Linked DNA regions of Homo sapiens. The protein of the gene in region 2 interacts with the protein of the main gene of each other region in a pairwise test. Each region holds a gene or a part of one and is shown on either strand. Other genes may lie near its edges. The genes, in order: TMEM19 and C10orf67.

What was found.
Region 1: the proteins of C10orf67 (region 2) and TMEM19 interact in binary tests that used the Homo sapiens proteins (3 or more experiments, as listed by UniProt).

What each region holds. Positions count from the first base shown.
Region 1 is NC_000012.12:71,692,582-71,696,404, reverse strand, and holds part of TMEM19 (transmembrane protein 19), read right to left. Parts: intron 1-3,823.
Region 2 is NC_000010.11:23,338,235-23,342,057, forward strand, and holds part of C10orf67 (uncharacterized protein C10orf67, mitochondrial), read right to left. Parts: intron 1-3,823.

The DNA.
Region 1 (3,823 bases), on a different chromosome or scaffold from region 2:
ATTCAATTCATACATCAATGCTGTGAAAAAAGAATGGATTTTTTCCATTATTTTTATATTATAACCTGAAATGTACATTTCTAGCAATTTGCATTTTACCAATTAAATTCTTAGCAAGCAGTAAACTGAATGCCATTTTGAGTACACATTTTTTACCATATTTTAATCTCCTTTCAAGCAATGCCATATGAATGTAAGATAATATTTTAGATAATATTTTTAAAATTATCTTAATTTAAAAAAATTAGAAATAGAGATGGGGTCTCACTATATTGCCCAGGCTGGTCTCAAACTCCTGGGCTCAAGCAATCTGCCCAGCATTGGCCTCCTAAAGTGCTGGGATTGCAGGAGTGAGCCACAGCACCTGGCCTTCTTTTTCTATAATAACCCTTTCCATTGCTTAGCTCAAAGTTCAGATATCATAACCAATGAGATAGTTACTCATTGACCCTTCCAGAGATACTCAATTACTGGTATTTAACTTTGGTACCTTTTAATCGAGAGTACAGAAACAGGGTAACTTGATATAAAGTATTAATAATAACAAAGTGCTTCAGCTCTGGAGTTGAACAGTCTAGAGTTCAAACTGTGGCTCCTTCACTTACCTCTTCAAGATTAGGATAAGTTACCTAACCTCCTTAAGTCTCAATTTTGCATTGGTGAAATGAGAATAATCAGAATTCTGACTTTACCGGCTTGCTGTAAAAAGTCAGGGATAATTTTTGTAATATGCTTATTATATTATCCAGGATGTAAGAGGTCCTTAATAAGTGTTACCTAATATCATGGATACTAATAACAGCAACAGTTCCAGTGGCAAAAGCTCAACAATAATAATGATAAATATTACAATATTGTTATCCAACCTTTAAGTTTTTTCAACTGATTTTTAAAACATTACAAAAGTTGTATGCAACTACTGAAGGGGAAAGTCAAAACACATGGAAGTATACAAACTGAAAGTCAAAGTGTCTCCCCTCCTCCTCTTCATGAATATTCACTGTTAACAATTTGTTCCACCGTCTCTAAACAAACCCAAGGTAGAAGAGCCCTACACAACCTACACTGAGATGTTACAAATGGCATCTATATCCTTTTTACTTCAGCCACCTTAAAATACCACATGAAGCAATTAATGTTCATGTTGGTGACAGCTTCAGATTGAGGAAATGAACAAGACAAGCTTTGAGGGAATGGTTTCTTTCATGCAGTGTAAAGATCGCTTGGAACTTTTGGCAACTCCTACCTATGTCTACATTTTAGATTAGTAACTGCTATCTCCTGTTCATACCTTTTCTACCTCTCCATCCTGCAGATCTCTAAATATCATTGATAAGGGGTTCATATATATGACAATAGGGCACTCCCAAATAATTTGAAGACTTGAGGACTATGGTTGCCTTGTGAGCCTAAAACAGGTAAATTCTGTACCTAACAGATAGCATTGGGGGAGTAAAATGACACTGTCTACAAATTTCTGACAATGGGAGTAGAGTTATACCCCAAATTCCAACCAGGGTGACCTGGGTAATCTCCAGGAGGCATAAAAGAGAAAGGCAGGACTGGAATTTCATAGTAATTTAATAAACTCAAAGCTCACCTATTGCTTCATACATATTCTATAATAATTTACTTGGCTAGCCCAAAATGTAGAAAGTGAAGGCCAAAAGAACCAGAGGTTGGCAGACTTCTTGAACCATGTCCAAGGGAGGGGAACCTTTGATTTGTGGATTTGCATAACTGTTTCTCAGACTTTGTACTCACCAAAGCAGCCTTCTAATTATAATCTGACTTCTCAAGTGGCCTGACTACAAGAATAGGGCATGCCTGAACAGTGATGTTTGTGTTCTTCTGCCTGGTAGTTCTTCTATCTGATTAATGAAGTGGCATTCTGGCTCATATAGCAATCCTTTATGACAATGAGCAACACTCAACCAGTTTTCTAGGCTCTAATCAACTCTGGGTACATGACAGAGTGAGGCTTCTACTTCAGAAAGACTGAAACCAGACCCAAAGTATAGTGACCAAAAAGAGGTCAGGCCACCCTTGTGAAACCACACAGAGCACCACCAGTGGCCTTTCCTGACAACACCCCCTCTTGCTGTGCTCTTCCACAAACACTTTGCCACAAATCCCCCTCATGTGACCCTCTCCTTATTCTGGCAATGCTCGCTCTCTCTCCAAGAGACCAGAGCCCTCCACTTCAGTGTGCAGCTTAGAGACTGACTGTGACTGAACCCCTGCCTAATCCTCTTAACACTGAGGTATATGTTTCTGTCATGAATGGTTCTAAATACCCAGATCCTGAGGAAGTTCTGTAACTCTTACTTCTAAATCCTAGACACACTAAAGTCATGATGTAGCAAAGTAAAATTTCTTATAACTGTGTGTATTAGTCTGCTGTCACGCTGCTAATAAAAACAAACCTGAAACTGGGTAATTTATAAAGAAAAGAGGTTCAACTGGCTCACAGTTCCACATGGCTGGGGAGGCCTCACAATCATGGCCAAAGGCAAATGAGGAGCAAAGTCACATCTTACATAGCGGCAGGCAAGGGGGCTTGTGTAGGTGAACTCCCCTTTACAAAACCATCAGCTCTCGTGAGACTTATTCACTATCACGAGAACAGCACGGGAAAGACCTGTCCCATGATTCAATTACCTCCTACCAGGTCCCTCCCTTGACATGTGGGAATTATGGGAGCTACAATTCAAGATGAGATTTGTGTGGAGACATGGTCAAACTATATCACTGTGAATAGCAGTAGTGGAAGGAAAACAGTAATAATAACTAACATCTATAAAATATTTGTATGCCAAGTACTGTGCTAAGCATTTTACATGGATAACACTTCATGATAATTCATTGCTATAGATACCATTATTCCTTCACATTTTATAGACAGGACAAGTACAACACTGAGAGTTTAAGTGACTTGCAGTCATACTCTAGGATAATATTCCCAACTACTATGATATACTTTAAATCAGCATTAGATTTTTTTTTATCCTTAAGGAAACAAAAAGTTCCAAACAGTAAGAAAAGCTGGGTGTGGCGGCGCGTGCCTGTAGTCGCTACTACCCAGGAAGCTGAGGCAGGCGAACTGCTTGAGCCCAGGAATTCAAGGCTGCACTAAGCTATGGTTGCATCACTGCACTACAGCCTGGGTGATAGAGCGAGACCCTGCCTCTAAAAAAAAATTTTTTTTTTGGGACAGGGTCTCGCTCTGTCACCCAGGCTTGAGTGCAGCAGCATGATCTCAGCTCACTGCAGCCTCTGCCTCCTGGGTTCAAGCGGTTCTCCTGCCTCAGCCTCCCAAGTACCTGGGATTACAGGCACCTGTCACCATGCCTGGCTAATATTTGTATTTTTAGTAGAGACGAGGTTTCACCACGTTGCCTAGGCTGGTCTCAAACTCCTGGGCTCAAGTGATCTGCCTGCTTTGGCCTCCCTAAGTTTTGGGATTACAGGTGTGAGCCACCATACCTGGCCATAATTTTTTTTTTTACAAAAAAGAAGAAAAGATAAACAGTTCATAGAATGAAATAATTAGGAAAAAAGCAAAGGTTTTTAAAAATCAGACTACATCTATTCCTAATCATCTATTATGTATCTAGCACTATTCAAAGAAACATGGGACACAGAAGCATAAGATACTCTTTGTCCTCAAGGAGTTTATAATCTAGCAGATTTCCTTTATGCTCAAGCAGATCAAGTGGCATGTTATAGCACTAGGATAATTTTTAGAAACATGCATATTATATTTTTGCTACCTGACTTTAGAACTATCAGTTACTACTGAAAGTAAGTTAAGGACATGCTT
Region 2 (3,823 bases):
CACCCCTGCTTGCTTGATGGCCCTCGAACAAAATGGCCATGGTGTCAGGAGTTCAACAATGTGGTTTTCCCCTTACCAAGGCTGGCCTGGCTACCACAGGTGCTGAGTGTCTAACTAGTCAACAGCAGAGATCAATACTGAGCTCCCAACGTGGCAGCATGAACCACAGGGAATAGCCAGCCACCTAGCGACAGGTTGATAGCACTGAACTTCTTCCATCATCCTCACCGGAACACACATTTATTTTGGATATGGATTTGCATTCCCTGACTATACTGCACTGGCCAGAACCACCGAGCATGAACTTACAGAACATCTTATCCATCATCACGGTATTCTCACAGCACCACTTCCCATCAAGGAACTCATTTCACAGCAAAAGACAGGCAGCAATGGATTCATGCCCATGGAATTCAGTGATCTTATCATATAACCCATCACCCAGAAGTGGCTCGCCTAATAGGTTAAATAGCTTACTGAAGATTCATTTAAGGCCAGGCACAGTGGTTCACGCCTGCAATCCCAGCACTTTGGGAGGCCGAGGCGGGAAGATCACTTGAGCCCAGGAGTTCAGGAATGGCCTGGGCAACATAGTGAGACCCTGTCTCTACAAAAAAATAAAAATAAAAAAAATAAAATTAGCTGGGCATGGTGGCACACACCTGCACTGCCAGCAATATTTGGGAGAAGCAAATCCATGAAAGAATGCAGTTCTGTCTCACAGGATGCAGTATATGCTTTGAAACAGTATATGGTGCTATCTCTCCTACAGTCATAGGTCCAAGAATGAAGAGGCACCTCTCACTCTTATGCCTCATAACTCACGCCCAAAATTATAGTTTCCTGTCTCTGCAACTTTAGGATCTGCTGGTTTGGAAGTCTTAGTTCACAAGGGAAGAATGTTTCCAGCAGAAAACATAACAGAAATTCTATTGAATTAGATGACACTGATGACTGGTCACTTTGTGATCCTTATGCTGCTGAAACAAAGGCAGAAAAGGGAGTCACTCTACTGGCTGAAGTGGATTGATTCTGAATACCAAGGGGCAATTGGGTTGCTGGTGAACAACGGAGTCAAGGAGAACTCTGTCTGGAACCCAGAGGATTCTTTGGGGTGCCTCTTAGTGTTTCCGTGCCCAGTAATAAAGATTAATGGAAAAAAGGCAGCAAAAAAAAAAAAAAAAAAAAAAGGCAGAACTTTTAAAAGTCAGGACTTCCAGGAACGAACATTTGGATCTCGCAGCTAGGTAAGGAACTTTGACCTGTCTGTACCTTTCAGCAAGTTTCGCAGCCACTGGGCAAGCCATCCCTGCAGACCAGCAGTTGTCACACCCTCTGGCAAGTTTCTCTCCCACCATGTCTTCTCCAAAGAGGTATCATTCCTAATCTCAGCCTTTGAGGGCGGGTCTTCTAACTCCTTAGTTTCTGCCCTGTTTCCTCTTCCTCAGACCTGGAGGTCATAGCTGCTTTTTGTGTTTGCTATCAGTGTATTGTCTAGAGTCTTCTTTTACCACCTTACTGCCTTTCACTAGTTAAAAATCCTTCTTACTATTTAACAGAGAACAGGAAATAGTCCCTGTTGAAATTAGCAGTGAGGTTTCTGCCTCCTGTCTGGACCCTGAGTGCTACATCAATATAGTAAATATAAACAGCCATGGGAACTAATTCTGTTTCTGTATAGTCTACACTGCTGCACATTTAACAGATCCCAGTGATTCACTTTTCCAGTCTAGAAATGCAATCCTTTACCCTACCCAGTGCTAAGCGGCTCCTTTTTACTATTCAGCCACATTTTTCATTAAGCATGAACATGTATGTTCTTCTGTTCCTTCCCATTTTAAGCAAAAGACCTATCATGGGTGGTTTATGGAGTGTGAATAGTTTTTACCAATTTTTTTTCAGGATATGATTTAGAAACTTGAAATTATGTTTTCAGGTATTCCTTCTGGTACCATAATATTACAATAATACAATATGATATTTTAAAATCAGGTTCAGGCTGGGTGTGGTGGCTCACACCAGCATTTTGGGAGGCTAAGGTGGGCAGACTGCTTGAGCTTAGGAGTTTGAGACCAGCCTGGGCAACGTGGTGAAGCCCTGTCTCTACAAAAATACAAAAAAAAAAAAAAAAAAAAATTAGCTGGGCCTGGTGGCACACACCGGCGGCTCCACCTAGTCAGGAGGCTGAAGTGAGAGGATCCCTTGAGCTCAGAGGTCAGAGGCTGCAGTGAGCTGTGACCATACCACTGCACTCCAGCCTGGGTGACAGAGGGGCAGCCGGAAATGGCAGATTCTTCTTCTAACTCCCTGATGAGGATAAGCCCATGACTCTCCGATTTCACCAGTCCTAACTCTTTATGTGACTGACTCAAAAAGTTCCAGCTCATTCAGAATCTAACTGAATGAGGAAGATTTATTCTTCAGTGTCCCTTCAAATTCCAAATGTCTCTAATTTTAGCTAACAACCCTGCTACCTAGAATGGAAACCCACATCACAACAAATTAGCTAAGTGGTTCCTACACAGTCTTTATTTATAGTCTCAGCAATTCTATTTCTGAATAATAAGTTGGTGGTTATGCATAAAACAGAATTTGGGGAAGATAATTATGTTTTTTAAAATAAATTACATACAAAATTAACGTCCTAATTTATTTTGGAAAACAGACCTATGAATATGTATTAATAAAATGCAATGACTCTTCTCACTGAATCCTAGAATTGTCCATCCTACAAATGCTTATTAATAAATCAGTCAATGAAGACAACATTAGGTGTGTTAAACTTTCACTGTGGCATATTTCTCAGGGCTAAATAAGAATATTGCTTCCTTTTACTCCTCTTCAAAGAACACAGAACTTTGATGTGCCCCATGGCTCATAAACTTCTCTAACTACACTCACTTCCTGGCTGATGTCACCAAGGCTCTCAGCTTAAGACACCATCTTTGTGCTAATTATTTCCAAACTGATACAGCCGAGCTGAACCTCTCTTCTTAACTTCAGACTCATCTAATCAACTACCTACTTAACAGCCTAAATGGATGTCTAATAGTCACTGCTGACATATAATGACCAGAAGTAAGCTTATGATATTCCCTTCAGACCTGTTCATCTCATTATCCTCCCCATCCGGGTTACTGGCAATTCCATTCTACCTGTTCATCACAGTCTCTCCGGACCTCCAACCACTGCTACCCCATGGTCATCTTCCATGAGGAATATTGTAATAGTCTCCTGTTTCCTTGTTTCTGCCCTCGTCCTCACTATAGTCTATTATCTAAACAGCCGTCAGAGTAATCCCATTGAAGGATAAATCAAATCATGTCACTCCTCTTTTCCAATCCCCTCATGGCTTCCCATCTCAAAGTAAAAGCTGAAGTCCTTAAGGTAGTCTAAAGTCCCTCGCCACAGGCACCGTCCCCCTTCCCTCTGACTTCACCTCCACTATTCTCCCTCTCTGCTCCAGCCACACTGGCCTCCTTGCTGCTCCTAGGACATCCAGGCACCATCTTTCTACCCAGTGTTCTCTCTGCCTGGAACACTTGCTAGCCTGATAGATCCTTAGGGCTCCCCCCTCAAGCCTGCAAGTCTTCACCCCAGTGTCATTTTCTCAGTGAAGCCTTCCCTGATCACCATTTCTAAAATCTGCAGTCCAGGCCGGGTATGGTGGCTCATGCCTGTAATCCCAGTACTTTGGGAGGCCGAGGCTGGAGGACTGCTTGAGCCCAGGAGTTTGAGACCAGCCTGGGCAACACAGCAAGACCCTGTATTAAAAATAAATTAGCCAGGCAGGCTGGGGTGTGCTTGTCGTCTCAGCTACTCA